2 linked regions of the Homo sapiens genome follow. The protein of the gene in region 2 purifies or fractionates together with the protein of the main gene of each other region. This does not show direct contact. Each region holds a gene or a part of one and is shown on either strand. Other genes may lie near its edges.

Region 1 (3,500 bases), about 92 Mb from region 2:
TGGGGGCCCTAGTCCTGGACGACGAGGGATAATCTACTGCCCCTCTCAGTGCACAGAGGAAAGGGATGTGGGGAAACATGGGGCTGGGGGGCAGGCATTCAGCTGAGCGGCAGCAGCACCTAGGCTGTAGCCATGTCTCTGGGTTTCACCCCAAGAGGAACAAAGTCAGGACATGGCCTCTTGGGTTCCTTGAAAGTTCGCCTAGGCCTGTACAACTCGATGACTTTAGAAGGAAAATTCTGTCTAGGCTCCAGGAGCTTTCAGGCCCTACGCCCCAGAAGTCTGGGACCCAGTTAGGGGTGAGATCTGGAGGTCAGGGCATTTTTTCAGGGTTAGGGACCCCTTGGTTCCTTCTCCCCAATTCCTGTGACCAGGAGCTCTCCTGCCCAGGGGGTAAAGAACTGGAAGAGGAAGAGGAGGCCTCCCCCTCAGCCTCAGCCCCGTTCATGGAGGGAGATGAAAGCTTGTCATGTTCCCTTTGAAAGCGCTGGCAGAGCCTCAGTAGGCCCTGATTGCTGGGCGCTGCCTCCCCTGGGATTCCAGCAGCATTAGGCATAATCCCTGGGCTCAGACGTCCTTTGAAAGGAGGAAGCAAGCATGTTTGCTGGGGCAGAAACGGCAAACAGAGCTGTTTTAGATGTGCAGGTTGGGCCCTCTTTGAAGAGAGACACATGGTTTCTCTGAGGCTGGGGATGTCGCTGCTCACAGCATGGGCCCAAGCTCTGGAGAGGTCTTCAAAGTGCTCACCCTGCTGGGGCAGTGGGTAGAGTTCTGGGCCCCCTTTGGGAGAGAGTATACAGGGAAATCAAGGAAAGGTGATGATGATGATGGGAACTGGAACATGCAGGCACCGGGGAGAAGACTCGGGCCACTGAGGAGCAGTCTCCCCTCCTGTCTGCACATGGGTGGCAGCTGTGTTCTGAGGACCCCAGCCCTGGGAAGCTGACAGTGAAACACGGAACAGACACACTGATGAGGGCAATCCAGTCGGCCTCCTCCCCTGAGGGCAGAATAGAAAGATGTGCGGTTCAACAGACGCTTCTAGAGCCTCCAGTGGGGCAGCACAGCATTGTGGTTAATCACAGTCCTGGGAGGGGCCGAGCCCTGCCATTTACTATCCTTGGTGCTAACCTCCTGGTTTAGTTTTCTAAGTCTGGAATACACATAATCATGTTTACCTCAGCATAACTGTTGCGATCGTGTGTATGGAAGCTTTACAAGTGTTTGCTCGTCCTTAAGAATGCGCTATTTCAATCAGGTGTTAATACTTAAGTAGCATCATGATTGCTGGAGGGAAGCCTGAGGGGCAGCGTGCACAAGGGCCTGAGTGAGGATCACCGCAGGTAGACAGAGGATGCATGGACCAGTGTGGCCAGAGGCTGGGCTGGGGGGTAAGGGGGGAGGTGAGGCTGGGAGTGCCCTTGAATGTCAGGCCCAGCAGGGTTTTATTTGTGAGCAGGTGGGTCCCAGCTGGGGTTTTTGGGCAGGGAAACAGCATGAGTTGGTGTGTCATAGGAAGGTGGCCCTAGCCGCAGCGTGCAGGGGTCAGGGAGAGCCTCGCAGCAGAGGTGCAGTGGGACTCAGCAACAGCAGCAAGGACTTGGGTCAAACATGGAAAACTCAGAGAGGCTGTATAGTCCTCTTGCTGAAGGGCTTTGCACTAGGACCATGCTTTGCTGAGTGGCTGGTAAGTGATGAGACCACCTGGTCATGCTCCTGTGCCTGGGATTGGGGAGGAGGGAGGAGGAGCAGCCAGAGAGAGGAGAGCCGCCTGAGGTGGGGTTCTCACTCTCCCTGTCTCCTTGTCATCAGGCTTTGGCCAAGTCCAGTGCCAGCTCAGAACCAGTGCTTCTGGGCAGACTGAAGAGGGTTTCATCTGGGACGGCCTGAAGGGCTCAGGGCTAGTTTGATCAGCTGGGGCTTATCCACACAGTTACTTGGGTCCTTCCAGTGTGGAGAAGAGGGCCTCGCTTGATGTCCTGAGCATTGGTTCCTTTAGAAGTGCTCTGTTCTTGCTCTAGCTGTGGGGAAATATACCAGCCTGTCTCTTTGGTTGTCCATGCTGGCTCCCTCTTAGGAGAAACCAGCCAAAGAAGGATCCAGCTGGGTCCTAGGATAAGAGATATACGTACATGGGTTCAAATTCCGACTTGGCCACTAAACAGCCATGCAGCCTTGGGCAGCAAGATGATTCATCTTTCAGAGCCTCAGTTTCTGCAGCTACAATAGGGGATGGTTTTACCCATTTGCCAGTGTTGTAAGCCTGGGAATAATCTGTGTAAAGTGCCTAGCAGAGCGCCTGGCACATAGTGGCACTTGTCATAGTCACACTGGTCTGGTCCCCCTGGGGACCTCCTGGGAATCCATCCATGTCCAAGCTCTTTTTCTGATTGGGAGGGGCTCCACCCGCCTCCCCTCCTAACTGCCCTTCTGCTCCCGAGTTAACCGGAGGCCCAGCCTCAGAGGGAGAGGGGAGGAACTGGTGGCATTTCTCCCACTTCCACCCACCATACTTGCTGCAGAGCAAGCAAGGATGAGGCCCCACTCTGGGCTGTCTCTGAAACAGATGTGGAGTCTTTAATACCTTTTAATCAGACTATTAGCGATGGAAACTCAGCCTCTCAGTGGCAGCTTTCCCCCACTTAGGAGCTGTTTGTTAAGACTTTACATGAAGGGAAAACAAATGATACTGTGGTAATGTGGTGAATTTCAGCATGTTCCCTTAATGCTGTGCTCTGGGCTCTCCCTGGCTTCCCCTTCTCAAGACGCTCCCCTGAGATACAGAGCAGTGGAAGGAGGGCAGGGCTAAAGCTGCCCCACCCTTCCAAGCGTAGCACCCCACCCCACACACACACTGGAGCCCTGTCATGAGAAAGATGGTCCCAGAAAGGATGAGATTGGGAATGGAAAGAAGAAGAGAAGGCAATCCAGCCCCCAGAGCCAAGTCCCGGTGGGCCAATAGCTTCCCAGATGGGTCTTTAGTGCCCACCTCATGTAGACGGCCACACTGAGGCAGGACTGGGTGGAGGCTTGGTCTTAGCACTGTGGCCAGCTCAGTCAGCACAGTGAACAGGGAAGGCATGGAACTGGAAGGAGGGGCAGCAGCCATGGCAGTTTTCACAGGCTTTCTCCTGGCAGCCAGCCGCCAGCCTTACTGCCTAGTGGCTTCCAGAGCTAGGCTCTGATATTAGTCATCGCTCCTAGGGAAGAAAGAAACCAAACATTTCTTGAGCCCTAGCTCTGTGACAGCCAGGATAGTAAGTGCTTTATATGTGTGTTATTTAACTTTGCCATACCCATCTACTAATCTTAAACCAGTGTATTTCAAGCAAGCCATTAGGTCATGAAATGAATTCTGTGAGTCATGACCAGGATTTTTAAAAAAATGGAATGGAACAGAGCAAAGAATATCAGAATGCATTACACTAAGTATTGTTTTATGAAACTTCTTTTCACTCTGTGTGTGTGTGTGTGTGTGTGTGTGTGTGTGTGTGTGTGTG
Region 2 (3,500 bases):
GATGAAATTTTCTTGATTTCTTTTTTGGATAGTTTGTTGTTAGTGTATATTGTATTTTTATATGTTGATTTTATATTCTGCAACTTTTTTGAATTTATTAGTTTTAACATTTTTGGTGGAGTCTTTAAAGATTAAGGATTTTTATATATAAGCTCATGTCACCTGCAGACAGACAATTTTACCTCTTTCTTTCTGGTTTGGATGCTTTTTGTTTTTATTTCTTTTTCTTACTTAATTGCTCCAGCTAGGACTTCCATTACTATAATGAACAGAAGTGGTGAGAATGGGCATCTTTGTCTTATTCCTGATCTTAGAGGAAAAGGTTTAGCTTTTGACTGTTTGAGTATGATGTTAGCTGTGGGCTTGTCACATATAGCCTTTATTATGTTGAGGTATATCCCTTTTATACCTAATTTATTGAGAGTTTTTATCATGAATGGGTTTATTATGTTGAGGTATATCCCTTTTATACCTAATTTATTGAGAGTTTTTATCATGAATGGGTGTTGAAATTTGTTAAGTGCTTTTTCTGGATTTATCAAGATGATATGATTTCTATCCTTCATTCTATTAATGTGGCATATCTCATTTATTGATTTGCATATGTTGAACCATCCTTGCATTCCACAGATAGATCCTACTTGATCATGGTATATAATCTGTTTAATATGCTGTTGAATTCAGTTTGTTAGTATTTTGTTGAGAATTTTTGCATCTATGTTCATCAGAGATATTGACCTGTAATTTTGTTTTCTTCTAGTGTCCTTGTCTGGTTTTGGTAGCAGGGTAATACCACCCTTATAAAATGAGTTTGGAAGTGTTCCATTCTCTTCAATTTTTGGAAGAGTTTGAGAAGGATCGGTCTTAATTCTTCTTTGAAGAAAGTTTGCTAGAATTCACCATTGAATCCATCAGGTCCTAGGCTTTTCTTGTTGGGAGGTTTTTGATTACTGATTGAGCCTCCTTACTCATATTAGTATGTTCAGATTTTCTATTTCTTCTTCATGATACAGTCTTGGTAAGCTGTATATGTCTAGAAATTCATCCATTTTTTTCTAGATTATCCAATTTGTTGATGTATAGTTGTTCATAGTAGTCTCTTAGGATCCTTTGTTTTTTCTGTAGTATAAGTTATAATGTCTCCTCTTACATTTCTGATTTTACTTGAGTCTTTTCTTTTTTTCTTATTCTAATTAAAAGTTTGTCACTTTTTTATCTTGTCAAAAAAAACAACTCTAAGTTTCATTGATCTTTCCTGTTATTTTTCTAACTTCTATTTCAGTTATTTCTGCTCTGTTATTATTTCCTCCCTTCTGCTAACTTTGGGCTTAGTTTGTTCTTTTTCTAGTTCCTTGAGGTATAAAGTTAAGATTTTTGAGATTTTTCTTTTTTCTTAATGTAGACATTTATCACCATAAACTTTCTTCTTAGAACTGCTTTTGCTGCATCCCTTAAGTTTTAATATGTTGTGTTTCCCTTTTCATTTGTCTCAAGTTTTTTTTATTTCCCTTTGACTCATTGGTTGTTCAAGAATATGTTGTTCAATTTCCACATTCATGTGAATTTTCCAATTTTCCTCCCTTTACTGATTCTAGTTTCATAATGTTGTAGTTGAAAAGAACTTGAGGCCAGGCACACTGGCTCACGCCTATAATCCTTGCACTTTGGGAGGCTGAGGTGGGTGGATCACGAGGTCAGGAGTTCAAGACCAGCCTGGCCGACTTGGTCTCTACTAAAAATACAAAAAAAAAATAGCTGGGCGTGGCAGCGGGTGCCTTTAATCCCAGCTACTCAGGAGGCTGAGGCAGAGAATTGTTTGAACCCGGGAGGCGGAGCTTGCAGTGAGCCAAGATCACGCCACTGCACTCCAGCCCAGGTGACAGAGTGAGACTCCGTCTCAAAAAAAAAAGAAAGGATACTTGAGGTGATTTCAGTCTTACATTTGTTAAGGCTTGTTTTGTGGCCTAACATATGCACTATCCTGGAGAATATTCTCTGTGCACTTGAAAAGAATGTATATTCTGCTGCTATTGGATAGAATGTTCTGTATATGTCTGTTAGGTCCATTTGTATGGTGTTGTTCAAGTTTGCTCTTTCCTTACTGGTTTTCTGTCTGGATGATCTATCATTGAAAGTAAGTATTGAAGTCCCTTACTATTATTGTATTGTCGTCTACCTCTTTCTTCAGTTCTGTTAATGTTTGCTTTATACATTTAGGTGCTCTAATGTTGAGTGCATTTATATTTACCAATGTTATATGCTCTTGATGAATTGACACCTTTATCATTGTGTGGTAACTTTCTTTATCCCTTGTGATAGTTTTTTACTTAAAGTCTATTTTGTCTGATATAAATATAGCCACCCCCGGCTGGACATGGTGGCTCACGCCTGTAATCCCAGCTCTTTGGGAGACCAAGGCGGGCGGATCACGAGGTCAGGAAATCAAGACCGTCCTCACTAACATGGTGAAACCCTGTCTCTACTAAAAATACAAAAAATTAGCCGGGTGTGGTGGCAGGCGCCTGTAGTCCCAGCTACTTGGGAGGCTGAGGCAGGAGAATGGCATGAACCCAGGAGGCAGAGCTTGCAGTGAGCTGAGATGGCACCACCGCACTCCAGCCTGGGTGGCAGAGCGACACTCCGTCTCAAAAATAAATAAATAAATATAGCCACCCCTGCTCTCTTTTGGCTACCATTTGAGTGGAATATCTTTTTTTTATCTCTACTTTTAGCCTATGTGTCCTCTTACACACATAGGCCTTTACAGATGGCTTCAGCAGGGGAAGCCCTTACCAGGTAGCTCATCCAGAGATTCTTGGGGGGGCAACTGACAGGTTCTGCAGGTAGGTGGGCCTGGTGCCTTGGTCTTTGGGGGTAGCTTGGAGGCTGGGTCCTCTGCGGCAGGCCTGGCAGTGGAATCCACTAGGGTGGACCTTTTAAGTGGGTCTTCAGGTGAAACACCTGGAGCCCGGTAAGTAGATCTGCAGGAGCCAGCCTGGTGCAGGGGTGGGCCCTACCCTGAGCCTGCAGGGGCTGGCCTGATGCAGGGGTCCACTTGGCTGGGTCTGTGAGAGTGGACCTGGAGCCTTTAAGTTTCTTAAAGACAAGACTGGATCTTATTTCGAACCACCATCACATCTTGTACGGTGTCTGAAGTATATCAGGTGCTTATCAAGTTTATTTGTGTAGAGTCAGCCTTTAAACATTGTTCAGAGGCTTTGATGTAATGCAAAAATAAAATAAACGGAGACAGGTTACCCATGAGGAAATATTTGCTTCCAGATATTGTAGTACATTTCAGAATCAAGAGTATGCCACTGAGCTACAACTCAACAACAAACAAATAGCCTGAATAAAAAATAGGCAAAGAACTTGTATAGACATTTCTCCAAACACAATATAGAAGTGACTAACAAGCATATAAAAAGAGGCTCAGCATCACTAATCATTAGGAAAATGCAAGTCAAAACCACAATGAGGTATCTCCTCACACAGATTAG

Evidence for each region. Proteins that work in one complex are often made in the same cells at the same time.
Region 1: the proteins of SORT1 (region 2) and TMEM9 purify together in Homo sapiens (affinity purification with mass spectrometry; one large-scale study listed by BioGRID and IntAct). This does not show direct contact.

Annotation. Positions count from the first base shown.
Region 1 is NC_000001.11:201,137,475-201,140,974, reverse strand, and holds part of TMEM9 (proton-transporting V-type ATPase complex assembly regulator TMEM9 isoform a precursor), read left to right. Parts: intron 1-3,500. UniProt on the Homo sapiens protein: Transmembrane protein that binds to and facilitates the assembly of lysosomal proton-transporting V-type ATPase (v-ATPase), resulting in enhanced lysosomal acidification and trafficking.
Region 2 is NC_000001.11:109,328,419-109,331,918, reverse strand, and holds part of SORT1 (sortilin isoform 1 preproprotein), read left to right. Parts: intron 1-3,500.